6 separate regions of the Homo sapiens genome follow, and regions 2, 3, 4, 5 and 6 are each reported to be linked to region 1. Evidence: microRNA targets listed by miRTarBase, many of them from high-throughput screens and not tested one by one. Region 1 holds a microRNA gene; each other region holds the end of a gene's coding sequence.

What was found. The annotated mature microRNA hsa-miR-4684-5p reads CUCUCUACUGACUUGCAACAUA and lies in region 1 at 1,112-1,133, shown strand. An mRNA with a match to its seed (bases 2 to 7 or 8) in the 3' UTR can be bound and repressed. Matches are read on the target gene's strand: a 7mer-m8 pairs with bases 2 to 8, a 7mer-A1 pairs with bases 2 to 7 and ends in A, and an 8mer does both.
Region 2: the mRNA of DHX36 is a reported target of hsa-miR-4684-5p. Seed matches in the 3' UTR shown: 7mer-m8 at 532-538 and 7mer-m8 at 2,395-2,401.
Region 3: the mRNA of ADAMTS18 is a reported target of hsa-miR-4684-5p. Seed matches in the 3' UTR shown: 7mer-A1 at 2,637-2,643 and 7mer-A1 at 2,425-2,431.
Region 4: the mRNA of ZNF136 is a reported target of hsa-miR-4684-5p. Seed matches in the 3' UTR shown: 7mer-m8 at 2,247-2,253.
Region 5: the mRNA of AGBL5 is a reported target of hsa-miR-4684-5p. The part of its 3' UTR that is shown has no 7-base or 8-base seed match.
Region 6: miRTarBase lists TPGS1 as a target of hsa-miR-4684-5p. The part of its 3' UTR that is shown has no 7-base or 8-base seed match.

Annotation. Positions count from the first base shown.
Region 1 is chr1:22,718,419-22,722,418 of GRCh38, forward strand. It overlaps MIR4684 (microRNA 4684), which reads left to right and starts at 1,099; the gene lies at 1,099-1,180. The region is part of intron 1 of EPHB2 (EPH receptor B2); the gene reads left to right.
Region 2 is chr3:154,271,341-154,276,538 of GRCh38, reverse strand. DHX36 (DEAH-box helicase 36) reads left to right here. Exons shown (of 25, transcript NM_020865.3): 25 at 183-3,993. The coding sequence ends at 368. Among named protein-coding and RNA genes, the nearest start is that of DHX36, 51 kb to the left of the region's middle.
Region 3 is chr16:77,279,778-77,285,125 of GRCh38, forward strand. ADAMTS18 (ADAM metallopeptidase with thrombospondin type 1 motif 18) reads right to left here. Exons shown (of 23, transcript NM_199355.4): 23 at 2,351-4,294. The coding sequence ends at 4,179. Among named protein-coding and RNA genes, the nearest start is that of SYCE1L, 83 kb to the left of the region's middle.
Region 4 is chr19:12,186,443-12,191,790 of GRCh38, reverse strand. ZNF136 (zinc finger protein 136) reads right to left here. Exons shown (of 4, transcript NM_003437.5): 4 at 1,920-5,221. The coding sequence ends at 3,790. Among named protein-coding and RNA genes, the nearest start is that of ZNF136, 26 kb to the right of the region's middle.
Region 5 is chr2:27,069,625-27,073,624 of GRCh38, reverse strand. It overlaps AGBL5 (AGBL carboxypeptidase 5), which reads right to left. Exons shown (of 15, transcript NM_021831.6): 14 at 3,919-4,000; 15 at 3,007-3,533. The coding sequence ends at 3,362. It overlaps OST4 (oligosaccharyltransferase complex subunit 4, non-catalytic), which reads left to right and starts at 1,971. Exons shown (of 3, transcript NM_001134693.2): 1 at 1,971-2,024; 2 at 2,162-2,299; 3 at 2,904-3,153. The coding sequence starts at 2,163. The coding sequence ends at 2,276. RefSeq lists enhancers at 763-822, 2,253-2,492 and a silencer at 1,503-2,202.
Region 6 is chr19:518,777-522,776 of GRCh38, reverse strand. It overlaps TPGS1 (tubulin polyglutamylase complex subunit 1), which reads right to left. Exons shown (of 2, transcript NM_033513.3): 2 at 3,123-3,888. The coding sequence ends at 3,354. Among named protein-coding and RNA genes, the nearest start is that of CDC34, 11 kb to the left of the region's middle. RefSeq lists an enhancer at 3,413-4,000.

The DNA.
Region 1 (4,000 bases):
CTTGTTGCCCAGGCTGGACTGCAGTGGTGCAATCTCGGCTCACTGCAACCTCTGCCTCCCGGGTTCAAGAGATTTTCCTGCCTCAGCCTCCCTGAGTAGCTGGGATTACAGATGCCTGCCACCATGCCCGGCTAATTTTTTGTATATTTTAGTAGAGATGGGGTTTCACTATGTTGGTCAGGCTGGTCTCGAACTCTGACCTCAGGCGATCCACCTGCCTCGGCCTCCCAAAGTGCTGGGATTACAGGTGTGAGCCACCGCGCCCAGCAGCTGTCAATTCTTGTGCCAGACATTGTACTAACAGCATTATGTGTGTTGCCTTGTGCAGTTGCCCCAAGAGCCCCACAGGTCGTTGTATTATTGTGCCCATTTTACAGATGAGAAAACCAAAGCTCTGAGAGGAGTGACTGGCCCAAGGACACCTAGGGAGTGGTGAGGCAGCGATTGAAACCCAAGTCTGGTGACTCCAGAGCTCATGCTCTTCTCCACTTCTAGAATGTGCCTCCCTGCTCAGAGGAAAGGCTTGGCTCTGATGAGGGTCTCTAAGGCAGCTGTCCAGCTTCCAGCTCCATCAACATCCTGAGATAATGCAATGGGAGGGTTCTACAACTCACAAACCTGCCATAAAAATGCAATCTCTGTGATAATGGTCAGAATAATGTTGTTCTAACTTAGACAAATCGGGTGTTAACTCATTATGTTGTAAGGGGCGCCTCCACAGAGAATGGAGACTACGAAACAGTCACAGGGCCATTTGCAGCTTGTACTTCCAAATACAATAGCTCATCAGGCCTTCACAGCCATCCTGAAAGGGGCAGGAGCCACGGGGCCCACTTTAGAGATGAGGAAACTGAGGTCTGGGAGATAATATGACTCGCCCAAAGCCAGCAGCGGGACCAAGCTTGAAGCCCAGGGCCAATCTTAATAGCTCATCTATCCAGTTCAAATTCTTAGCCAACATTTGAAAATCAAGAGATTTTACAGAAAAGTCCTGTTTCTGGCGTTTCTGAAAAGTCAGACAATCTGGTTTCACAGGGCCCACATTCCCACATGGCCACAGTTGGCTGGAGTGACTGCCTCTTAAGACAGAATGTGTGAGCACCAGGGGTACCTCTCTACTGACTTGCAACATACATTTGTCTTGGTGTGTTGCAAGTCGGTGGAGACGTACCCTTGGTGCTCAACCCCTGTAAGGGCTTGAGTTTGCCTCCTGGATCTGCCCCTGTTACCCTGTGTGACCTGGAGTCAATTGCATGGCTTCCCGAGCCTCAGCTCTCTCTTCTATAAAATGACAGGGGTGAGACTCAGTGATTTTGGAGGCCTCTTCCAGCTCCAGGATTCAGTGCCCATTGCCAGGGTTCAGGGGTTCAGGCAAGGGAAGGGAGAGCTACAAAAAGTACAGGACTCCACTCCTGAAAAGCATATCACTTATCTTTAGCAAGCCACCACAAAACCTACTGGCTTAAAACAATAATGATTTCTTAGTTGTCCTGATTCAGTGGATTGGCTGGGCTCAGCTGGGTGCTTATTCTGTTCCCCGGGTTGTCAGTTGGGATCACTCAGGAGGCTGCACTCAGCTAGGTTGGGCTGGAAATTCCATCGTGGCTTCACATACATCTTTGAGGCCCTCATAGAGAAGGCTGGAAGGCTGGTCCCCCTACGCTCCTCGCTATCTCCCATCCTTTGCTAGTCTAGACTGCGCCTCTATCCATGGCAATTAGCTCCCAAGATGGTGAAATGGAAACTGCAAGGCTTCTTAAGGGCTGGGCTCTAATGTCACAAAGTGTCACCCCTGCAGCCTTCTGTGGTGGTCAAAGCCAGTCACAACACCAGCTCAGATTCATCCCAGGCTTCCTCATCAGGTTCAAGGAAAAGGAAAATATACTGGGCTTGATTTTTTTGTTTTATCCTTGAAGAGAAGTCCCATTTCTTGCTCAGCTGTTCAGCATGGAAAATTTAATGGTGGGTTATCCAGCGTCCCACTCAACATGTCCTGACCCACTGAATCAGGTGACACTCAGAGTTCAGTGCCCGCCCCTGCACCCTGTTGTTGTCCATGTTTCTTGGGCCAACCTGTGGTCCAAACTTGAATCTAGACGCCCCCTTACTGGGAGGAGTGGCTTCGTGTTTAGTAGGGGGAGGAATTGTTGGCAGCCATATTTGGAGACAGCCTCTCACAGGTAGTTTATCGTCCAGTCCAGGGATGGCGGTGGGGAGGCAACAGGAAGCCAGAAATCTCATTCCCCCCCCCCCCCGCCCCAGCACTTACCCCCGAATTGTCTTCAGTGTTATCTGCCTCTTCTGAGAAGGCAGGGACTTTCCACTTCACTATGTACAGCACAAGGCTTGGCTCATGATAGATATTAGATAGATGTTTGTGCAATAAACGAACCTAAAATTCATGAAAAATGGCAGCCTGGAGTTGTAGATATTCAAGACCTAGTATGAGGTGTGAGGCCAGAGAAAGGGGCCTTGGGCTGGTGGGATTGAACTGAAAAGATGGGTCCCTGGTGCTCCTGTGGCCTGGGGCAGGTCACTTCACCCCTCTAGGCCTCATTTTCCTTATCAGCGAACTGGGCATCATAATTTCAGGCACTACAGAAGGCTGTGCCGAGGAGTAACTGTGTTCTTCATTCTACTATGAAAGACCGGGTAAGGGGGTGACTGGTTGTCACTCCCACCTTGGCCAGAGGTCATCGCAGGAGTGGGGAAGCATTAGAGGAAAAGAAAAAATTCTAAAGGCATGGGCCAGTTATTGTCAAATTAAGTTTGGACCACAGGCTGGCCCCAGAGCACATGGAAATGTGTACAAACAGTGAAGTGAGTGGGTGGGACCACTGAGCTCTGAGCGTTGCTTCCAAAGACAGTTGAGGGGGACCTGGGCAACACATAGTCAAAGTTGACGCATTAAACCATTGAGCAAGAAATTGGCCTTCTGTTTGCTGGCAGACCAGGAAATCTGGCCTAACGTAATACCGGGAATAAATCACAAGAGTCTTGATCAGAGACTCCAGACTTGTGAGCTGGCCTGCGTTGTGAATGAGTGAGGTGACTTGACTGTTGGAAGTATAATAGTGCCCCCAGTAAGAGCGCATGTCCAGTCTAAAAAAGGCAGGTGCTACCCACTCCTGACCATGTTGTCACACAGGAATCTGTGTCCGGTTTTGCCACATCTTCTGATTTGCAAAGTTCTTTTTTTTCCTCTCTCTTTTTTCTTAGACAGGGTCTCACTCTGTCTCATAGGCTGGAGTGCAGTGACGCAATCGCAGCTCACTTAGCCTTGACCTCCTGGGCTCAAGCAATTCTCTCACCTCAGCCTCCCAAGTAGCTGGATCCATAGGCACCTGCCACCGCATCCAGCATTTTTTTTTTTTTTGTAGAGACAGAGTCTTTCACCATGTTGCCCAGGCTGGTCTTGAACTTGTGAACTCAAGCAGTCCTCCTTCTTCAGCCTCCCAAAGTGCTGGGATTACAGACATAAGCCATTGCGCCCAGCCTGATTTGCAAAGTTCTGATGCTTATGGGAAAACTGGTTTTTGTTTTGTTTTGTTTTGAGTCTCGCTCTGTTGCCTAAGCTGGAGTGCGGTGACACTATCTTGGCTCACTGCAACCTCTGCCTCCCAGGTTCAAGCAATTCTTGGGCCTCAGCCTCCTGAGTAGCTGGAACTACAATCATGTGCCACCACGCCTGGCTAATTTTTGTATTTTGAGTAAAGACAGGCACCTACCACCATGCCCAGCATTTTTTTTTTCTTTTTGGTAGAGACGGAGTCTTGCCATGTTGGCCAGGCTGGTCTCAAACTCCTGGCCTCAAGTGATCCACCTGCCTCAGCTTCCCAAATTGTTGGGATTACAGACGTGAGCCACCATGCCTGGTCTGAAAACTGGTTTTTGAATGTTTACTCATTTTATTCTAAAATACAGTTCTGGCCAAACCAAACCATGTTTGCTGGCTGGATTTGGCTCACTGGCTGGCAGTTTACAACCTTAGGTATTTGGG
Region 2 (5,198 bases), not on the chromosome of region 1:
GAATTTTAACTGCACTTTAGTTATTCACTCATAACCACACTTTAGTTGATTGCTCACTAAATGTTTTAGCTTTTGAGCCATCGCTTGTGAAACTCCTTGTATCAGGTAAATTAGTTTCATTTATTATGTTATTTGGTAATATATCTGCCTTTGTTGAACATGTATAATTTTTCCAACCTTAGGAATTAAGAAAGGAACTAGATATTCTTCTGCAAGAGAAGATTGAAAGTCCTCATCCTGTAGACTGGAATGACACTAAATCCAGAGACTGTGCAGTACTGTCAGCTATTATAGACTTGATCAAAACACAGGAAAAGGCAACTCCCAGGAACTTTCCGCCACGATTCCAGGATGGATATTACAGCTGACAGCTTTTCAGGGGTGGTCTGAAAAGCCAGTTTGACAGCCATTCTTCATCATTGTTTAAATTTTGGCTGGATGCCAAACCCTGGGACATGAACAATTTTCATGTGTAAGGTAGAAGCCTTCAGTAGGTAGTAAAGACTTAATGTGCATGACTTGATGTTATATGTAGAGATATATATATATATATATATATACCATAAAAGCAATATGTTCTCTGATCATATACTCTGCTGTGGTCATGCCCACTCTTTGGGAGTATATTCCCTTTATATATATTGAGTATTGTACCACTTGAGAAATTCCTTTGTTCTGTTATACAAAATTAATCTTTCTGCTCATAATGATTGATGATACCACCAGTAAAAATAGGATGTTTACCCCAAAACAAGTGTCAATTAAGAATTTGAACACAACCACATTTTTTAAAATGAAACTTCTATCGGAAGTAAATTAATTTGTTGTAATAAAGTCCAGTATTTAATAAAATGTACAATGTTAAATCTCAGCCAACCTCTTGGATTGGTTTCTACATTTTCACCTATGGCTTGGTTCATTTGATATTTTTACTATTTTTAAAACACGTGCCCTTTTTATATCACCCTGTGCCTCATAATACAGCAATTGAGAGCACGGTCTGGAGCCTGATTACCTCAGTTCCAGTCTCAGCTCTGTCAGTTAGTCAGTGTCTTGGCTTCTCTCCTTTTTCCTTATCTTGTAAGATACAGTTGGCCCTTCATATCCATGCATTCCACATCTGTGGATTCAAACAACTGTGGATAGAAGATATTTGGGGAAAAAAAGGATGGTTGTGTCTATACTGAACATGTGCAGACTTTTTTCCTTGTCATTCCCTAAACAATACAGTTTAACAGCTATTTATATAGTATTTACATTGTATTAGGTATTATAAATAATCTAGAGATGACTTAAAGAATATGGGAGGTTGTGCCTAGGTAACATGCAAATACTACGCCATTTTATTATAAAAGACTTGAGCATCCATGGATTTAGGTATTTGAGGGGTTGGGGTTGGAAACCAGTCCCCCACAGATACTGAGGGACAACTGTACATGTAACAGTTGTGAGGATGAAGTACATTAATACATGTAAAGCACATAGGCTAGTGCCTGTACTCTCTGAATCTTAGTTGTTATTTGTCCCTGAAATATTTTCGTAAATGTCTAACAATCTATTATATTACACTTTTTATTTTATTGCTACTTATCTTCTTCGCCAAGGAATAGTGTAACAACACATGCTGTACATTTTCAGCCCTATCAGATTGTGATAAATACTGTTGGTTGCCGGCCAGCAACTATTTTGTCCCTCCCTTCTTGCTTGCTTATTCTGGTGTTCCCTTCTGTGCAGCTCTGTGTCCAGGTATGTTGGACCCTTTCCCTAAGGGTGAATCCTGCTGTTCTAAATGAATCACATGTGGTCTTATCCCCCTTATAAGTAATTGATAAGGCATGAGTACATAAACATGTCCTAGTGAATGGCAGCTGAGAAGTGATCTTCAAGGGGGTGTCTGAAAAATGTTTTACTCACTAATAGGCTTAGAGGAGGAAATCCTGCTCTCTCTGGACATTGTCTTTTCTGACTCTGATAGTTGGAACTGCTGCAGCCAACTAATGATCACAAGGAGACACGGACTCAGACTGAGGTTAGCTCAGTGGAAAGATAGAACTCACCAGAGCCTTTGATAATGCCGGTAAGCTTCAGAATTAACCCATTCTAGAGCTGCTTTACATGTGGACTTATGTTGATATAATAAAAACCCTTCAATTGTTTAAGCCACTTTTAATAGGATATTGTTAGTTTTTTGTTGGTTTTTTGTTTTGTTTTGTTTTGTTTTTTGTTTTTTGGAGACAGTGTCTTGCCCTGTCACCCAGGCTGGAGTGCAGTGGTGTGATCTTGGTTCACTGCAGCCTCGACTTCCTGGGTTCAAGTGATCCTTCTGCCTCAGCCTCCCAAATAGCTGGGACTATAGGCATGCATCACCACACCCAGCTAATTTCTGTATTTTTTGTAGAGACACCGTTTCACCATGTTGCCCAGGCTGGTCTCAAAACTCCTGTGCTCAAGCAGTCTGCCCGCCTTGGCTTCCCAAAGTGCTGACATTACAGGTATGAGCCACTGCACCCGGTCCCTAGTAGGGTATTTTTAACTTGGCAAAAAGGGTATTAATCAGAAACATACACTATCCATCACTGAGTATTATACTCTTGATTTTGCAATGTAAGAGTTTTAACCTATTTGTCTGACAGAAGGTGTAAAAGTGCTGGACATGCTGCAGAAAGAAACAGGAAAAGCATCTTGCTGCACTCCAAAGAATGCAAATTTTAATGTGCCTTCCAATAAATGCAAGGAAACCGAAAGAGTTAATAGTATCATACAATGACTGGGATGTATTGATAATGCTACAGTGATCCATTAACAGCACTTGTTCAGGTACTGCTCCCAATCCTGGGAATGTGTGTTACCTGTTATGTCTCAAATCCTTTATCTTGGCTGTTCTTCTAAAAGTGATCTGTCTGTCATTGAATGCTGGCATTAGAGTCATGTCACAATATTAGAGCATACTGGTTTTGCCTCTAACGTCGAGGTGACCATCTGGTCTTTCTTGCTCTGTAAGAGTTTCTGTTTGTGCTTTTTTTTCCCTTACTTTTATTATCCAGTTTAAATCCAGTCAGTTGGCCAAAATGGTCTTGGAAGAAAGGATTTAGAGATTCTGTAAAAAAGATTATTAGTTGGTTCTGTGTTTGCAAACCAGTATGTAATTCCCATATGAATGGGGAAAATGTTCCTGAGGAATTATTTAATTGATGAGGCATTCACAGAGATTAAAGCAGTTATTGTTACCTCCAATTTATGTCTTCTGCACAGCTGATTAGGTTGGACATTTTAATCCAAGGTGCTACTTACATTCTGTTTCTTTTGTTTACAAAATAGGGCATTACTGAGTAGAAAATACATTCCAGGTCTAAGAACTGTTTGTTCTTTAGTGGATTTTAAAGAATAAGACATTAAATTAAGAAGGAAAATCTGTTTGATTCATCATTTTGAGTAATGCAGAGAATAACTCTTAAAAAAAAAACCTGAAACAGAAACTTTCAGGAAAAAAACAAAAGAAATTAAACTACTGAATAATCTTTCAAAAGCATCGTTGAACAGTGAGCACATGTGATGCCTTCCCAATTAATTAATTTGGGCAAAAGCTCTAGATAAACTTACACCAATTGTTGCAAGGCATTCTCTATTACTGCATTTTTAAAACAAAGTCCTCCCCTAAAAGTTATGAATTATACAAAAGCTTTAGGAGGAATTTTAGTACTCCTTTACCCAAAATAAATAGTGGTAAATTTCCTTCTGTTCTTAGCTCTGAGTTTGTATTTATTTATAAGTCATTGTGATCATGTATACTTATATATTTTTAATATGCTAATTGCTTTTAAATGGGATTTTTGTTCTGATTTTAAAATAATACATCCTCCCTGGACAATATTTGGAAATGTAGCAAAGTAAATCATGTTACCATTGTTCCATTTTGATATATATAAACTTTAGGTATTATTTTATATATAATAAATTTTAAGATATTATATACAATAAAATTAACCAATTTAAGTATATGATTCAGTGAATTTTGTCAAACATATAGTAGTGTAATTACCACCACCACAATCTTGATACAGAACTTTTTTTTCCCCAGAGATGGAGTTTCGCACTGTCACCCAGGCTGGAATGCAATGGCGCAATCTCGGCTCACTGCAACCTTCGTCTGCCCGGGTTCAAGCAATTCTCTGGCCTCAGCCTCCTGAGTAGCTGGGATTACAGGCACGCGCCGCCATGCCCGGCTAACTTTTGTATTTTTAGTAGAGATGGGGTTTCACCATGTTGGCCAGGCTGGTCTCGAACTCCTGACCTCATGATCCACCTGCCTCGGCCTCCCAAAGTGCTGGGATTACAGGCGTGAACCACCACACCCAGCTGATATAGAACATTTGTATCACCTAAAAATTTCCCTTTTACCCCTTTGTAGTCAATCCCTCACCCCCACTTCTATCCCCTCGAAACCCATTGATCTGCGTTTTGTCACTTTTCGTTTTGCCTTTTCTAGAATTTCAAATAACCAGTCTTTTGTGTCCAGCTTCTTTCACTTAATGTAATACTTTTGAGATACTGATATTGTTACATGTATTAGTAGGTAGTTCCTGTTTTATCTTCTATTCAGTAGTATTTGCATTGTATAGTTATACCACAGTTTGTTAATTCATTTACCAGTTGATGGACATTTGAGTTGTTTTCAGTTTTTTTGCTGTTATGAATAAAGCTGCTATGAACATATGTATATAAGTCTTTGTGTGGTTATATGTTTTCATTTGTCTTGGGTAAATACCTAAGATTAAGGTTGTTGTATTATAGTAAGTGTGTTTGTATAAGAAACTGCTAAACTGTTTTCAGAATTTGCTGAAATTTTACATTCCCAACAGCAATGTGTGTTGGGGGGGTCAGAGTATTCCACATCCTTGCCAGTACTTGGTATTTTTAGCTGTCGTTTTAATTTTAGCCTTTAGTGGATGAGGAGTCCTGTCCCATTATGGTTTAATTTTTGTTTCTAAAATGATTAATGATGAGCATCTTTTCATGTTGTTTGCTTTTTCCTTAGTTATCTTATGTATTTCTGTTTGGGTTTTGATTTTTCATCTCATGTCAAATGATTGGAGTTTTAAGGATATATCTGACTACGGAGAAGGAAGATTACTAATTAATTTTAGAGATACAAAAAGTTGTTATTTACATTCCTTGAGATTTATAATGGCCAGATGTGT
Region 3 (5,348 bases), not on the chromosome of region 1:
GCCGCCGTGCCTGGCTGAAATATTTTTTACAGCAAATCATATTTTTACTTAAATAGATTTAAAAGTTGGTAGAGGTGATACGTGCTTATGGGGAAAACTCATGATGATAGCAATTGAGTGACAACAGTTTGAGAATCACCTCTCAGGAGTCTGTGGTCCTCTCAGGAGGAAGAAGGTGTCAGTCACCCAGATCCAGGGGTGACTGACGAAAACCGTCTTAGGTGTTGACCCTCAGCACCAGTGGAGACCATAGAGGTATTCAAGGAATTAAGATCTTAGGGGAAAGATAAGGTAAAACAGACAAAGCATGGAATCCTTATGCATATTTTTACATTTTCAAAGATAAAACCATATAGCACATAATTAGATGACCTTTTCCACATCACACTTAGCAATAATGGGTTCTGTGTTATAAATTTTCATAAACCATGTCTTACATAATACATGCTGGTGTATTGTGAGGTATTGTGGTGTATTGGGCTATTGTGAGGATTAAATGAGATAACATATATAAATAGTTTATTACAATATCTGATTCCCATTAAACACTAATATGTGGTTGCTTATTACCAAAAGCTATAAAGAAAGACAACTTTTTTTTTTTCCTGGTGTGGTATCGTCTTTCTACCGTTAGCATATAGAACCCATGCCAAGAGAATTCTCGCTCATGCTTTCCCTCCATCTTAATGGACTTGGAGTTGCAGGCTCCAGATACTCTGGTGTGATTGCCCAGGAAATACTATCATCCCAGAGCAAAGCAATTATTACAGATAAAGACTTAGATATGCAACAAGTCTTTAAGTATACTTTGTTGAAAAGACTAGGTAAGGATTTATTATTTCTCAACCCCAGTTCCCCATATGAAATTCCCAGCTCTGCCCGTAATTTATCATTGTTAAATCACTTATTGTCAAACTCCATTCACATGCATCTCAGGGGGCAAAAAGTAGAGTTCTAAGGCCTGCATGCCCTTCTTTTTCTTTCTCTATCCCAGGGTAACGCAACACAGTCACGAGAACCCCAATGGATTTGGGTTTGAGTCCTGACCCCATCACTCAGTGACTGTGTACTAGGGCTAAATACGTAATGTCTCTGAATCCGAGTTGTCACCTGCCAACAAAGAACAATAGTATCTTCCTAAGTGGGCTATTGTTAGGATTAAATGAGATAACATATATAAATAGTTCAGTACAATACCTGATTCCCATTAAACACTAATATGTGGTTGCTTATTACCAAAAGGTATAAAGACAATTTTTTTTTCTGGGCGTGGTGGTGGGCACCTGTAATCCCAGCTACTTGGGAGGCTGAGGCAGGAAAATCGCTTGAACCTGGGAGGCGGAGGTTGCAGGGTGTTGAGATCCTATCATTGCACTCCAGCCTGGGCAACAAGAGTGAAACTCTGTCTCAAAAAAAGAACAAAATATCTTTTTTTCTGTCACGTATTTTATCTGCATCTATTCCATTTTCCATTCTTAATCATAATTTTTTGTTTGCTAAATAGCAATAAATTATATAAAAATTCTCTTAACTATAAAGATACGCATATGAACTTATGTAGACACACATGTAATCACAGATGCAGGGAAAAATACAGTATTTTCAGATCAATTGGACATAACTTTGCCCAGTTCTTATTCTCCACTGGTTTAATGATTCAAAATTTCAAAAAGCCAAGAACAATTACTTTTTATTTTTTTCATGTTTTCCTGCCCATCCTTCCCTTCCCCCTCTTTATTTTTACAAAAATATTTTACTAGAATGACTTTTAAATGTAAAAATACATTTATGGTAGTTTTATCTTAGATGATTTCCACAAATGTTCTCATGACAATTACAGGGGAACAAAATAGTGTGTCCTCAAGAGGGTAAATGTGTCATCTGTTTCATCCTAGCATTTCATACTTTGATTTCTTCAAAGGCAAACAAGAAAAATCACTAGTTGTTGAATAGCTTATCTATCTTTCCTCTTCTCAATGAAGTTACTCTGTAGATTTGTTGTTGTTGAGACAGAGTCTCTGTCTGTCACCCAGCGGGGAGTGGTGTGGCCCAATCTCCTCTCACTGCAGCCTCAGCCTCCCAAGTAGCTAGGACTACAGCTGTGTGCCACCACAGCTGGCTACTTTTTTTGTATTTTCAATAGAGACAGGGTTTTGCCATGTTGGCCAGGCTGGTTTCGAACTCCTGGACTCAGGTGATCCGTCTGCCTTGGCCTCCCGAAGTGCTGGGATTACCGAGGTGAACCGCTGCACCCAACCATTCTCTAAGAGTCCTGAGTGACATTTATACAGTTAAATTACCTTTGAAATTATGGACTTTTCACTAACTTATTCAAGAACTTAACAAGCTGTCAAAGATAAAGAAATGGAATACTTTATTATAAAACTTATAAAATAATTAAATATTACACATATATTTTGACTTTTCTCTATAATCCATGGTTTTATTCAACATTTTATCTCAAAATATTACTTAGAGAAGCAAGTGAGAACACATAATAGGCTATTAATTAATAAATTAATTTTCCATAAAATAATAAAATGATAATTATATAAAGAAATAACTTGCTGTTTTTCAGAAGGCAACGGGGTTGTAGTAGAGAAAATTTTTTTTTTTCCTGTTGATAAAATGGCCACTTCTCTAGGCCAAGCCAAGCAGATTGAGAGAAGTTCCTAAGCATTATTTCTCTGGGATTCAAGAACTCATGACTTTAATTAGAATGGGAACGAAGTATGCTGCTAAATTTAACAAACCACTGTCTAGTTGATTATGCTGAGCTGGCTAATCCAGCTTGAATTGAGACTTTTTAAAGAAGTAAAATTGGGTTACATTCATCAAAGAAGTTGAGGAATAAAGTAGAATTTATGTAAATATGCCCTTTATAACCACTTCTCAAAAAATTACAGGAGGACACAGTATTATAATTACTTTGGTTTTGGCAAAATAGTGTGATGTTTTTTCAATTGAGAACAATTTTAAACTCATTAATGCCTACCAACAGCTGGCTTCTGATGACTGAAAATACTCTTATTCAGTGAGGGTCTTGTCATATTATGATTTATTAATATTAACATAGCAAGAAGACAGATGGATTTTTTTATTACCACTGTTTACTCCTTTCTTTCTCTCTTTTTTTTTTTTTTTTTTTTGCTGTTAGCTCAATCCTAGGGCAAATTTAAACGTATCAGTTGGTAGGAAAAAGCCACAAGTGGCCTTTAATTTTCCAAGCAGCTCTGGTAGTATGTACAGAGCATTATAAATGATGGTCCTTTCTCCCTCAAAACACTGCTGTGTTTTGTCATTTAGCTCCTCCTAGATATTTTTTAAATACCAGAAATGGGTATGTAGCATTCCCAAAGAGCGGGCTGTAGCTTTTCATGGACTGATTCAGCAAGCACCAAAAGTTACGAGGTTGATAACATGTGAAGGGCATCCATATTTATCTTTTCTATGAGTTGTTTCCTTGCATGAATTTCAATTACATGGAGATCTTAAACAGTCCATGTTGCCCTATTTTCATAATATTCCTTGGAATACTTTTCAAGTTGTCAATTTTAGTCTCAGAGACTCTCTATAAGCAGAATATAGTTTACACAAAATAATAAAGACACACGCACACCAAATAAACATAACATGAAGCTTGCCAGTCCAGCAGCAAGCACAATTGCGAGCACCATTTGGCTTCTCATAGAACTCCTGGCTTGGGTGTTCACAGGGTTAGTCGAACTGTGAACTCCACGCAACAGTTAGGCAAGGTATTCCATCCAGATTTGAAAGTTCTGAGTCTCAGTCTTTGACCTGAAGTCATAAAGGACCTTTTTAAAACAGATGTCTTTGCCCTTGAACCCTTTGAAGTTCAAAAGGGGGTCTCTCCCCAAATCGACGTATCTCAGTGTGATTCACCACTTCTTGCATATAACAGTGCAAATCAAAGATTTTTTTTAAAGTCAGATTTGTCATCGCTTCCCATTTTCAAGTGCTTCAGAGTACCACGTGCTTCAGGGAATTGAGCTAGAAGCCTACTGGCAACCTGTCTGTTCCTCAGAGCAGGCTCCTTCATCACAGCGGCAGCTCACAGATGGTTCTCGGTGCTCAGCTCCTGGTCTCAAAGGCAGCTGGTCTCTCTAGAGGTTGAAAGGTAAGCCCCTGGCCCTAAGGTGCTGGGGAGGACACCAAGATCAGATCTTCCTTGTGCATGACTTGCAGCATTGTTTTCCGTAAAACTTGTGGTTGCAGACACCATGCTGAGGAACTAGGTGACACCAGTTGAAGAAATCTACGCAGGATGGATCCTCTAAAATAAGAAAATATATTTAGCATGTTGGCTAGGGTGTCTATCCTTTTTCTTTTTTTTTTTTTTTGAGATGGAGTCTCACTCTGTTACCTAGGCTGGAGTGCAGTGGTGTGGTGTGATCTCCGCTCACTGCAATCTCTGCTGCCCAGGTTCAAACGATTCTCCTGCCTAAGCTTCCCAAGTAGCAGGGACTATAGGCAAGTGCCACCAAGCCCAGCTAATTTTTGTATTTTTAGTAGAGACGGGGTTTTCCACCATGCTGGCCAGGCTGGTCTCAAATTCCTGAGCTCAAGTGATCTGCCTGCTTCGGCCTCCCAAAGTACTGGGATTACAGGTGTGATCCACCGGGCCCAGCCTTTGGTGATTTGCATATTATGATTTATTAATATTAACATAGCACCTTTTTCTTAAGGTGAGGGCCTACAGAACAAAGGTCTTGGGCCCACCTCCCTTGTGCCTCTATGTGGTTTTTCCCATTAAACATTGGGACTTTGGTAGGGGGGTGAGGTAGGGGCAGGATTTAGATGCCAAGAAAAGACTCTGACCATTAGCAAAATTAAATGATTTGTTTTTAAAAAATGTCACATCTAATCCAAGATCAATGTCTGATCCTCCCTATGTAGCCTGGGAGCTACCATGGAATTCAGTGTCCAGGGAAATACCCTAAAATGGTGCTTTAGGGATCCCCTAAGGATATTGTTGTACCACTAGTACCGCTGGTTCTGATTGAGAAGGGCTGTCAGAGGGGAGCATTAAGGGAGGGTGTGCTGCTGGTCCACGAACTATAATTTCAGGAGCAAGAAGCCTGATGTATTGGGAGTCAAGCCACCTTATTTGCCTGCAAATGGGTTGAGATTAACTGAAAAAGCCGGGTCTCCAACAGTCTGTGTAGGTTTAAGTCAATCTCAACCAGTTTGCAAGTAAATAAATTTAAGTCAACACCAGTCCTTTCTAATTTCTTTAGTTGTTCAATGAGCAGGACAGATGTGATTATTTCACTGTACATCAAGAATTCTTACTCAGATGGGCCTCAGGAGATAGGAAATGCAAGTGA
Region 4 (5,348 bases), not on the chromosome of region 1:
ATGTGCACCACCACACCAGGCTAATTTTTGTATTTTTAGTAGAGACAGGGTGTTGCTATGTTGTCCAGGCTGGTCTCCAATTCCTGGCCTCAAGTGATCTGCCCGCATTGGCCTCCCAAAATGCTGGGATTACAGGGTGAGCCACCGCGCCCGGCCTGTGGTAGTATTTATTACCACAATTTATTACACCCTGCTTGACAACAGGGACGTCCCTGATAGTCCTTGGAAAGAAATCACTCACAACATGATTTGACTTTTGGTATTATGCATATGAAAAACTACTATCATCATAAAAGTTGTAATCAAATAAGCATGAAAACTAAAATTTATGAGGAAAAAAAGGCCTGAAGTTGTAAGCTCACAGTAATATTGACTCACAATGTTGGACAAATAGCTTAATTATAAAGTTTATCGGATCCATGATTGGAATGGGATATTTTAATATATATTCTCAATAAATACAAAACTCACCAGACAGTATGCAAGTTGCTTGCATACTGTTAATATTTCTAAGAAATGTGTAGAGAACTTTTGTTTGAGGAGGACATGTATATTGTTTGTAATCATATGTACTCAAACATAATTCAAAATAAACTGAGGGACTGCATTCAGCTATGAGTAACAGGAAACACCCACAATGTTTCTATAATGAATAAGGTGCTTATTCTCACATGAAAGAACGGGGTGAGACCCATCTCTGCATAATGCAGCAGAGGAACAAGCTCCATGTAGGGTTTTTCGTTTTGTTTTTGGATAGTGCCATTGTAGCTCTCAACCTGCATCAGTAACACTCACTGTCCCTATGGACAAAAATGTTTATGTACAAACTGGACCGTACAGGAACCAAGTCAGATCATCAGACTATTCCCAACAATGACAATATGAACTGATTACTTGGCAGATATATTAGGGCCTTCAGGAATATCCAAATGGCAGCTGAATCTTTGATATGAAGCTTTTAAAAACATCTATGGAAATCCATAACTTTGAGAACATGGAGGTGAAGTAGCTAGTGGTGGATTAGAGGATACTCTTTTTTTTTTTTTTTTTTTTTTTTTTGAGACAGGGTCTTACTCTGTACTCTGTCACCCAGGCTGGAGTGCAGTGGCATGATCTTGGCTCACTGCAACCTTCACCTCCCTGGCTCAAGCGATTCTCCTGCCTCAGCTGGGACTATAAGCACGCGACACCACACCCAGCTAATTTTTGTATTTTTAGTAGAGATGGGGTTTCACCATGTTGACCACGCTGGTCTCGAACTCCTCACCTCAGGTGATCCGACCGCCTTGGCCTCCCAAAGTGCTAGAATTACAGGTGTGAGCCAGCACACCCGGCTGAGGATACTCTTGATTGGCAGGGCAAAGAATCAGGAAAATGGGCTAGATGACCATGTCCAAACAGCCCATATGCATCTGTCTCTCCGTATGATGCCTCCAAAATCTGACTAATGCGTTCTTCACTTCTGCATTCTAAACTTCCAGGAATTTAGGCTATTGATGCAGTCTACAGGTAACCATGAAAGAAAGAAATTCTGGGCCAGGCACAGTGGCTTATGCCTGTAATCCTAGTGCTTTAAGAGGCTGAGGCTAGAGGGTGACTTGAGGCCAGGAGTTTGAGACCAGTCTGGGCAACATAGCAAGACACCATCTCTACAAAAAAAAAAAAAGATGAAAAACCAAAAATAAAAAGATTAGCTGGGCTTGGTGGCACATACCTATAGTTCCAGCCATTTGGGAGGCTGAGGTCGGAAGGCCACCTGAGCTCCAGAGTTTGAGGTTACAGTGAGCCACAGTCGTGCCACTGCACTCCAGCCTGAGTGACAGAGTGAGACCCTATTTCAGAAAGAAAGAAAGAAATGAAGTCTGAAAAGTTTAGTTCCCATTACCCAGATTGACATGACACAATCCATGAAAGGCATCTCCCATTTTAGATTTTATTATTCTATCATAGCTGTCTCCTTATCCCAAAATCAATTATACAAAGAGCAGCCAGAATAAATAACAAGGAGTAAAGAACAACAGGTTAAAATAATAATTCACGAGACTACAGTCTGTGATAAACTTTACATACTTAGAATTAACAACAACTCTTTAATAGGAAGCAAAATAAAATTATTTGAGCCAAGAAAAAAAAAATGGGCTAGGTGTGATGGCTCACACGTGTAATCCCAGACTTTAGGAGGCTGAGGTGGGTGGATCACTTGAGGTCAGGAGTTCTACCAGCCTGGCCAACATGGTGAAACCCCATCTCTACTAGAAATACAAAAAATTAGCCAGGTGTGGTGGCACATGCCTGTAGTCCCAGCTTCCTAGGAGGCTAAGGTGGGAGAATCACTTGAACCCAGAAGGCAGAGGTTGCAATGAGCCGAGATCATGCCACTGTACTCCAGCTTGGGCAACAGAGCACAGAGCGAGACCCTGTCTCAAAAAGAAAAAAGAAGAAAGAAAAAAGAAAAAAGGAAAAAAAAGGAGCTGTTCCAATAAATATGATGGAATGTATATAATGTGGAAAGGGAATCAAGAACCTGCTAAATGAAGCAAGTAGGTTCATACCAACATTTATTAAGACTTATTTTTCAGTGGTCCTCAATCACAGAACAATTAAGCAACCATATACAATTTAACATACCTGAATATGAGAAACACATTTAAATTCATTGTTGGATTAAACACATTTCAAAATGGAAAGACAAATATTTTATTTACTGACCTAAAACAACACTACCTATGAAATTCATGCACTATTGCTTTCAGATTACTTACAGGATTATATCAATTTAACATTTCTTTGTGAGATTAAGCATTTGAAATCCATAGTCAGAGAACTATTTTAAATATGAGCCACTAATTAACAAAATATACATATAGCTTCTACATTTCCATCAGGTTATGTATTTTCTAGAGACTACATGACCCGCTATGCATGAGGCTTTTTGAAGTACTTACATTTATAGGATTTTGCTGTATTAGAAGTTTTCAAATGACTTTTTTTTTTTTTCTGAGATGAGGTCTTGCTATGTTTTGCACACTGGTCTCAAACTCCTGACCTCAAGTGATCCTCCTGCCTCAGCCTCCCAAAGTGCTGGGATTACAGGTGTGAGCCACCACACCCAGCCAGAGCCAAAACATCTGTTCAAATTCAATACCTCAACTAGTGAGGCCCTGCTGGGATTGAAATCCAGCATCTCCTGTTTGCCAGACAAGTACTTTAACCCACAAAGCCACAGAGCCAGAGCCCTCAAATGACTTTAAAAGTATAATGGAAAACCTTCCTTGTAGTTTTCACATTTATAGTGTTTTGATCCAGGGTACATTCTTACATGTTGTTGAAAGCATGTGGGCTGGCTAAAAACGTGTGGACATTGCTTATATTCAAGAGCTTTCTCTTTTGTGTGTTCTTTCATGGCTTCAAGTGGAACTAAAATGACTAAAGGCTCTCCCACACTCTTTACATTTACCAAGGTTCTCTCCACTACACATTCATGTGTGACAGGGTTGTGTGATGACAAAACCTTTCCTACACCCTTTACCCAGGGTTTCTCTCAAATATGGGTTCCTTTCCAAAAAGCATTTGTTTGGTTTTCTCCATGATGAGTTCTTTCATGTATTTGAAAGGAACTAAAATGATTGAAAGCTTTCCCATGTTACTTACATGTATATGGCTTCTCTCTAGAATTCTTTCATGTATTAAAAAAGGCACTGACAGAATTTCATGCTTTCCCACGTTACTTACATTCATAGGGCTTCTCTTCAGTGAGTATTTTAATGTATCTGACATGAACCCAGAGCATTAAAGGCTTTCCCACATGCATTTATAAGGTGGTCCATCTTCAGCATGTGTTAACATGTGTCTCTGAAAGCTGGCACGGCAAGAATAGGCTTTCCCACATTCCTTGCAATGATAGGGTTTCTGTCCAGTGTGAGTCCTTTCATGTAGTCGAAAGGAACTAGAAGATCTAAAGGCTTTACCACATCGCTTACATTCAAAGGGTTTCTCACCAGTGTGAATCATTTCATGTGTTCGAAAGGAGTTGAGATAACTGAAGGCTTTCCCACATTGCTTACACTCATAGGGTTTCTCTCCAGTATGAGTTCTTTCATGTATTCGAATTGATGTTGAAGAAACGAAAGCTTTACCACAATGTTTACATACATAAGGTTTCTCTCCAGTGTGAGTTCTTTCATGTATTCGAAATGGACTCAGAGAATGAAAGGGTTTCCCACATACCTTACATTTATAAGGTCCTTCTCCAGTATGTTTTATCATGTGTCTTCGCATACTTGGGATACAACTGAATGCTTCCCCACATTCCTTACATTCATAAGGTTTTTCTCCAGTGTGAGTCCTTTCATGTATTTGAAAGGTACTGGCAGATCTAAAGGCTTTACCACATTGTTTACATACGAAGGGTTTCTCACCAGTGTGAATTCTTTCATGTAGTCGAAGGGAGGGGAGATAACTGAAGGCCTTCCCACACTGCTTGCATTCATAAGGTTTCTCTCCAGTATGGGTTCTTTCATGTATTCGTAAGGTTGGGGAACAACTGAAGGCTTTACCACATTGCTTACATTTAAAGGGTTTTTCTCCAGTGTGAATTCTTTCATGCACTTGAAATGAACTCAGAGAATGAAAGGGTTTCCCACATACCTTACATTTATAAGGTCCATCTCCAGTGTGCTTTATCATGTGTCTTCGAACACTTGTGATACAAGTGAAGGCTTTTCCACATTCCTGACATTCATAGGGTTTCTCTCCAGTGTGACTTCTTTCATGTGTTCGAAATCTACTGGGATAATCAAAAGCTTTCCCACACACCTTACATTTATATGGTGTATATCCACTGTGTGTGATGATGTGTCTTCTAATTCTTTTGAGAGAAAAGAAGGTTTTTCCACATTCCTTACAATCATAGAGTTTCTCTCCAGTGTGAATTATCTCATGTGTTCGAAAGGAGTGGTGAGAACTGAAGGGTTTCCAACACTGGTTACGTGTATCTGGCTTCTCTCCATATTCCTGATATTCCTTTGGTTCATGTCCACTGTGATCTTTGATGTGTCTATTAAGGGATGACTGACCCATGCTGACTTCTCCATATACAATGCTTTCACAGAGTTTCACTCCAGGGATTTTCTTGCTCAGATTCTGATTTGCAAACTGGCTAAAAATTCCTCCACGCTGACTACCATCCTTAGTTTGATAGAGTCTTTCTAACATATGACTTCTGTAAAAAATGAGACGGACATTACTAAGGATTTGTTAATCATTTTATATTAATAGCTATTAAACTTGCATTTTCAATATTATCAGGTAAAGCGTAGACTCGATGCCAAGTCTGATTTGTTTGAGCA
Region 5 (4,000 bases), not on the chromosome of region 1:
GGCTGGAGTGCAATGGTACAATCTTGGCTCACTGCAACCTCCGCCTCCTGGGTTCATGCAAGTCTCCTGCCTCAGCCTCCTGAGTAGCTGGGATTACAGGCATGCACCACCAGCTAAGTTTTGTATTTTTAGTAGAGATGGGGTTTCACTATATTGGCCAGGCTGGTCTCGAACTCCTGACCTCAGGTGATCCTCCCGCCTTGGCTTCCCAAAATGTCAGGATTACAGGTATGAGCCACCATGCCTGGCCAGTTTCTTTCTTCATAAGATGATTTTGAAGGCCCCTTTCGGCTCTGATAGTCTAGGATACTATGCACCTGGGTCAATTGGTTTTAAGCACTTTCAAGGCTTGCTTTCCTGTCATTTTCAGTCTAGAAAGTTTAACTTCCAGGGCTGGCCTAAAGGTAGAGCTTATTTTTAAAAGGGAGGGCTAGTTCTGATTCAACAGTAGACCTAAGTGTTTGGTTGGACTTGGATCTGCTTCAAATTTCCAGGAGACATGAAGCATAATGACGTGTAATCCTTAAGACCTAGACCCTTACTCTCCCAGAGAGGAGCTGGAAACAGACCGCTTACTGAGGGATGCATAAGGGAGTACCTGTCTGGGGTTTCACCAGTGTTGTGTGGAGGGGACTCGGCTTTCTAAATATCAAGCTTCTGGGAAATATTGAGTGGGGGCTGGTGGTGAGGTGCGGGGAGGCCACGGGAACTACAGACTACTAAAGGCAGGGATTATGTTTAGAAGCCACGGGGCTGAAGCCCTTGGGTGACAAGCTGTTGATGGTCCCAGGCCCGGGAAGGCTACTTTGGGATAGTGCATCCCCAGCTCAGTGCACACAGGCGGGAAACTGGTCCCCTGTCCCAAGCCCATAGCATCTCCTGTAGAGTTTTCTTTGGCTCCGAGAAGCAGAGGCCTCCCCTGAGCCCTGGCCCCCCTCTACCGCAAAGCAACTGGCTTCCATTACCCCTGACAGCTCCAGAGCAACAGCCCAGCCCCCGGCCCCGGCCTGGCTCAGTGCCGTTCCCTTTTATGGTGAAGCTGAGAGAAAGCATGGAGTGAGGGGGGAGAAAGCTCTGGCTTGGGCAGAGGCTTGGAGAGTTCCAGGGTGCCTCTCCCCTCGCCAGAGACCCTCGGCTACCCGCAGCCACCGCTCTTCGTTCTCTTCGGCGACCTAATCTGTCCTGAACCCAGGACCCCTCTTGCTTGTCCCAGCCCTTCCTCCTCTTCTCCATTCCTCCCCTTCTCCCTCCCCCACATCCGGGGGGTGATTTCCCACTTGGCCGAAGTCCCACGGTTTGGGTTTTGATTCCGGGAGGGTCCGCCCTATTTCCGACGCCCACCTCCGGGGGGTAGGGTGGAGGGAGGGAGCCCGGCTAAGACAGAACCTGGTCAGATCACAAAAGGCAGGATGGTTCTACTTGGTTGCATGTGGGTCACAAAGGATGGCGCCGGAGAAAGGAGCACCCGGCAGCACCAGCCCTGTCCCCATTCTACAACGCCTCCTACCCCTGTCCCCGCCGTCCGGGCCAGGGAGAGGGCACTGAGGGCAGGACCCAAAGGAAGCACCTGGTTGGGCCGGGCCGGGAAGCGAAGGGTGGGCAGCAGTACTGAGGGCCGGGGCCGGAAGGGGGTTGGAGTATCCCGCCGGCCCCGCCGCTGCACCCTCGCCCCAGCCCACTCCTCGGCTCCGGGGAGGCGGCCACCACGGCTTCGCTAGCCGCGTCCCGAGCCACGCCAGCTGCAGCCAGCTGTGCGGTGCCGGGCCCAGGCGCGCGTCCGCAGCCCCGCCCCACCCCCTACGGCTGGACCTCCCACCGCAGCCGCGCCCGAGGCCCCGCCCCAGCCGCGGCCGTAACGCGCCGCGCGGAGCCGACGAGACGGCGGGGCTAGAGAGGCCGTCCCGACCGCGCCCCCCGCCGGAAGCGGCTTGTTCGGGCCTGAGCTGGCGCTACGAAGTTCCGGTCCAGGTCTCTGACTTCGGGCTTGTTCGCTGGTGGCGTCGGAGCCGAGCCGGACTGGTCAGGTCAGAGGCACGCAGGGGCCGTCCCACGGGCCAGCCCCGCCGTGGCCGTGGCCGTGGCTGGCCCGTGGGGCGAGGACGGGTTCTTGCGAGGGCGAGGAGTGCGCCAGCCCGCAGCTCAGCCCCTCTCTTCTCCGCAGGATGATCACGGACGTGCAGCTCGCCATCTTCGCCAACATGCTGGGCGTGTCGCTCTTCTTGCTTGTCGTTCTCTATCACTACGTGGCCGTCAACAATCCCAAGAAGCAGGAATGAAAGTGGCGCTTTCTCCGCCCCAGGTAACGGCCCGGGGCTGTAGCGCCCAGTCCCCAGAGCTGAGTGGCGAGGCCGCGCCAGGGCTAGCAGGGTTCGAAACTTACAATCAGAAAGTGTCGGGCCAAGCATGATACAGTCCAGAACTGGGCCCCTTTGTCTGCACAGAGTAGAGAGAGAGCGCGCTGTCCTCTCCCCGTAACCTGTTCCCTGCTAGAATGGGAGTGGGTTGCCTAACCCTCACAGTCTCCAGTAGGTAGATGCCCAAGTTGGGAGTATAGTTGTAAGGAGGCACTGACACCGGTAGGAACGAAGGTACCGAGGGAACCATCCAAGTATGAGGATTTGGGCTCTTAAATAGCCCTCATTTTCCCCAGGTTGTTTAGGCCTTATTTGGGCAGATTTTTTTTGGTGAGGGGGGTGACAGATGTAGAATTCTGTTTCCATGTTCTGAGGCCAGGGGTTGGCTGCTGACCCAAACTATAGAGAAGGAAGGGGGGGCTTTGGAGCCAGCCTTAAGTGTGGGTCACAAGTATAAAGGGAACATGGATGGGCGTTACTTCCTGAAGGATTCCCCAGAGGAAAGCTGCAGCATTTTCCTTACCTCAGGTCTTTCCCCCTCTTTTCTAGGGTTCCAGGACATAGTCTGAGGCAAGATGGAGGGTATGAGGGGCCTTCACACTTCACTTCATCCCTTCTACCCATCACAACATACAAAGCAACTACACCTGGATTTTTCCAAACAACTTTTATTTCCTCAGAGTCTTCCTTAATCCTATGGAACAAGAAGCTGCCACTGAATAGGGCCCAGTATAGGGGCTTGCTTTTCTACTCCCTCCCCCCAATATAAAAATATAGACTTTTTTTTGTGGTCCCAAAATCTTGTGCTGCGGAGGGAGGGAAGGGGTGGCAGGTCCCTGTTTTGTTCTGTCTCAAGGTGATACTCTGTAATGCCTTGGACAGCGTGGCTGGCATTCCAAGGACTTAACGGCTGTCACATGGAATCAGCGGCCTGGAGGGGAACTAGCATATTTCCCACTGTTACCCCATCTTGGGGCTATATCCTGGGCTTGAACATAAAGGCATTATCAGACCCGGGGAGAAACAGTCAGTGGGGGAGATTTAGGGACAAAACAAACCTCAGGTTGGCCCAAGGGACCCCTGCTGTAACAATTCCAGGATGGGGAGTCAGATAGACTACAGGATATAGGAGAAAAGGCAGGGGCAGAGCGGGGCCGTGGGGGCCTGGCCTGAGGCAGCCTGCAACAGAAAAGAGAGAGGAATCAGGGCTGTGAAAACTCTCCTCCTCTTCTGTTCTGCTAACCAGGGGCTGGGAAGTGAAAGAAGTGGAGCGAGATGAAGATGGGTAAGGATGGGCAAGTTGGTTACTGCACAGTGGTTTGACGCTGGAACCAGCCAGCTCCTAGACCTTAGGCCCTGACTAAAAGTTGTTTTCTTTTGCTTTGGATTGAAGACTTGGCCATGGTGGGGGAAAAAAAAATCAGGGACTAGATTCTTAATGGAAGTACATTTAGTCTTTGTGCTCAAAAGGAGTAGGGAAGCAGAAAATTATTCTGAATGACAGAAATGGGAATGAGGGGACAGAAGTGAGGGGTGGTGTGAGGGACTGGACCCAAGTGCTCACCCTGGTGTAGCAGAGCAGGATCCCAGCTCCAGCTCACTGCTCTCCCTGGTCCGGGGGGTAGGGGATGTGGGGCCTGAAGAGC
Region 6 (4,000 bases), not on the chromosome of region 1:
ATTCCTGTATTGATTCATTGGTTCATTGATCACCTATCCTAAGCCCAGCTCAGTGCTGGGAAACTGGGAGACAGGAGTGGTCTCTGCCATCGTGGAACTTGTAAAAATTTAAAAATTCTGTTCCCGGCCAGACACGGTGGCTCATGCCTGTAATCTCAGCACTTTGGGAGGCTAAGGTGTGTGGATTACAAGGTCAGGAGTTCAAGACCAGCCTGACCAACATGGTGAAACCCCATCTCTACTAAAAATACAAAAATTAGCCAGGCACGGTGGCACGTGCCTGTGATCCCAGCTACTCAGGAGGCTGAGACAGGAGAATTATTTGAACCTGGGAGGCAGATGTTGCAGTGAGACGAGATTGAGCCACTGCACTCGAGCTTGGGTGACAGAGCGAGACTCCGTCTAAAAAAAAAAAGAAGGCCAGGCACGGTGGCTCACGCCTGTCATCCCACCACTTTGGGAGGCCGAGGCAGGCGGATCATGAGGTCAGGAGATCGTGACCATACTGGCTAACACGGTGAAACCCCGTCTCTACTAAAAATGCAAAAAATTAGCTGGGCGTGGTGGTGGGCACCTGTAGTCCCAGCTACTCGGGATGCTGAGGCAGGAGAATGGCGAATGGTGTGAACCCAGGAGGCGGAGCTTGCAGTAAGCCGAGATCACGCCACTGGACTCCAGCCTGGGTGATAGAGCGAGACTCTGTCTCAAAAAATTAAAATAAAATAAAATTCTGTTCCCGTGTGTGGTGTTAGAATAGAGAGTAGTTTTCTTCCTCAGTTCCCGGATCATAGCTCCTGAAGCCCTAGTTGCAGTCTTTTGCTGCACTGCTGAGCTCGTTAGGCCTCAGGAAATAATCTCCCGCCCTCCTCTGGGCTGCAGAGCTCTAATCTTACCTTTTCGATTACGGGTCTTGGGACCCTCCCCAAAGAGGGTCCTGCCCTATACCCCTGGGGAAGTAATGCTGACATCATGAAGCTTCCATAAAATCCCTAGGCCGCGTGTGGTGGCTCACGCCTGTAATCCCAGCACTTTGGGAGGCTGAGGTGGGTGGATCACCTGAGGTCAGGAGCTTGAGACCAGCCTGGCCAACGTGGTGAAACCCCGTCTCTACTAAAAATACAAAAGTTAGCCAGGTGTGGTGGTGGGCGCCTGTAATCCCAGGTACTCAGGAGGCTGAGCCAGAAGAATCGCTTGAACTCAGGAGGGGGAGGTTGCAGTGAGCCGAGATTGCGCCACTGCACTCCAGCCTGGGTGGCAGAGCAAGACTCCGTCTCAAAAATGAACAAACAAACAAAAAACCACGAAACCCTAGAGAACTGGGTTCTGGGGAGCTTCCAAGAGCTGAACATGTGGAGATGCCTGGAAGCTCTGAGATGGTGCCCTGTGCATCCTCATGGCACTCCAATCCCCACCCTACACGTACCTCACCTGTGGTCCCTTCTTCTGCTATCTTTGCCACATCCTTTATAGTAAACCAGGAAACACAAGTGTTTCCGAGTTCAGTGAGCTGCTCCAGCAAATTAATTGAACCCAAAGGGGTGCTGGGAACCCCAACTTGAACCCGGCCAGACCGAAGTCCTGGAAGCCCAGATTCGCAACTGGTGTCTGAAGAGGGAGAGGCTCGGGGACTGAGCCCTCGGCCTGTGGGATCTGACACTATCTCTGGGTAGAAGGCGTCAGAGCTGAATTAAGAGGACACCCGGCTGGCGTCTGCTGGTTGGTGTGTGGGAAAAAACGCTCCCACATGTGGTCACAGAAGTCTTTTCTGTGTGGATGACTGTGATGTGGCGGTGACAGCAGGGGAGAAACAAGGCTTGAGTGTTCTCTATGTCCGATTGGACCCCCTCCACCAGAACAGGCTGTGGGGACTCCCATTTAACAGGAGACACTGAGGCCAAGGGAGTGAAGTCACCTGCCAGCAACTGGAGCTGGAGTTCTGGATTCACTTTTTATTTTTTTATTTTTTTGAGACGGAGTCTCGCTCTGTCACCCAGGCTGGAGTGCAGTGGCGCGATCTCGGCTCACTGCAAGCTCCGCCTCCTCGGTGCACGCCATTCTCCTGCCTCAGCCTCCAGAGTAGCTGGGACTACAGGTGCCCGCCACCACGCCCGGCTCATTTTTTGTATTTTTAGTAGAGACAAGGTTTCACCATGTTAGCCAGGATGGTCTCCATCTCCTGACCTCGTTATCCACCTGCCTCTGCCTCCCAAAGTGCTGGGATGACAGGCGTGGGCCACTGCGTCTGGCCTGTTTTTTTTTTGTTGTTGTTGTTTTGTTTTTGAGACAGGGTCTCACTCTGTCGCACAGATTGGAGTGCAGTGGCTCAATCTCGGCTCACTGCCACTTCTGCCTCCTGGGTTCAAGTTATTCTCCTGCCTCAGCCTCCTGAGTAGCTGGGATTACAGGCGCCTGCCACCACAGCCCAGCTTTTTTTTTTTTTCGTATTTTTAGTAGAGACAGGGTTTCACCATGTTGGTCAGGCTGATCTTGAACTCCTGACCTCAAGTGATCCGCCGCCTTAGCCTCCCAAAGTGCTGGGGTTACAGGTGTGAGCCACCACGCCCGGCTGGATTCGCTCTTGCAGTCTGAGAAGTGATTCTGGTTGGTGGTGGTGGGCACTGGGGGATACCGGACGACCCTCCCCACCGGTGGCGAGTGGGCTGCGTTCTGGAGCAGGCCGGGCGCAGATCCCAGCTGAGCCCTTGCTGAGGGTGTAACCTCCGCTGCCTGGGCCTGGGAATCAATCACATGAGGCACTTCAGTTCCTGGGAAGTGTTAGGGCTGTTGTCTCACCAATGTCACTACCATCTGCCCAGCTGGCCTCTTCATTTGACATCTGGGGAGACTGAGGCTCAGGGAGGATACCTGGGCCGGGCGGGGCTGGAGGGCCCGGGCCCTGCGTTCCAGAAGAGCCGCCTGCTCTCCGGCTTCAGGCTCCGCAGGGCCCCGTGGGGCGTCCCCCTCCGCTGCTCCCACCAGGCCGGGTCCAGGGGTCCCGGCGTTTCCGGCCTCGAATCCAGCCTCCAGTCGCCGCGGTTCCGGGGCCGTGGGTGACCTGCTGGGGAAAAGCGTCTTCTGCGGGCACCGGGGCTGGGAGGCGGGCGCTCGCATACACACCAGCGTCAGCCTCGCAACACATTTTATTAGCGTGGGGCAGGGGCTCCCGCGGGGGTGGAGGGGCGGCCGCGGCGCTGTGTGGGGACCGGGCGTCCGCTTCCTGGGAGCCCCGGCCTCCTCCGCAGGGCTGGGCGCCTGGTTATGGCAGGGCCTCACCAGGGCGAAGGGAAGGCTCCGCGCGCCCCGCACGCGGGGACCCCCCAGCGCAGATCCCGGATCCGCGCGGCCCACGGGCCTCAGCCCACCGGCTTGACCTTCGCGATGAAGAGCGCGGCGGCCCTCTCCAGAAACTCCTCGCGGGTCATGGGCGCGCTGGGCCGCCGCCCCCCGACGGCGCGGTCCAGCGCCAGCGCCAGGCTGTCGGGCCCCAAGCGCGAGCCGGCCTCCAGGAAGCGCGCGGGCGCGGCGGCGTCGCTGGCCTGCAGCGCGCCCTCCAGGGTGTCCAGCACGGCCTGGCCCACGCGGCGGTCGGCCACGGCGGCGGCCGAGTCCTCCAGCAGCTGGAAGAGCGCGCCGGCGCGCGCCACGAACTCCAGCAGCACGAAGCAGGTGAGTGTGCCCGCGCGGAAGACGCTCAGCGGCACCGCCTCGTGGTCACGGCACTGCACCTTGCGCAGCAGCGGCGCCACCACCTCCTCGGGGGCTTGGCCGTCCCGGCAGATGCGCCTGAGCAGCTCGCTGTAGGTGCGCCCGTCCAGCCCCGGCCTCTTCCTGCGCCCGCCGGCGCTCAGGCACTCGTAGGCCACGCTCACGTTGTTGTTGAAGGCGGCCCTGCGGAGACGGGGACGTTGGGGGCCGGCAGAGACCGCGCGCCCACCCAGCCCCAGCCTCCCCTCCTCGCCAGGCCTATGCCCTAGCCTCCCCGACCCCCCAGCCAGCCCTG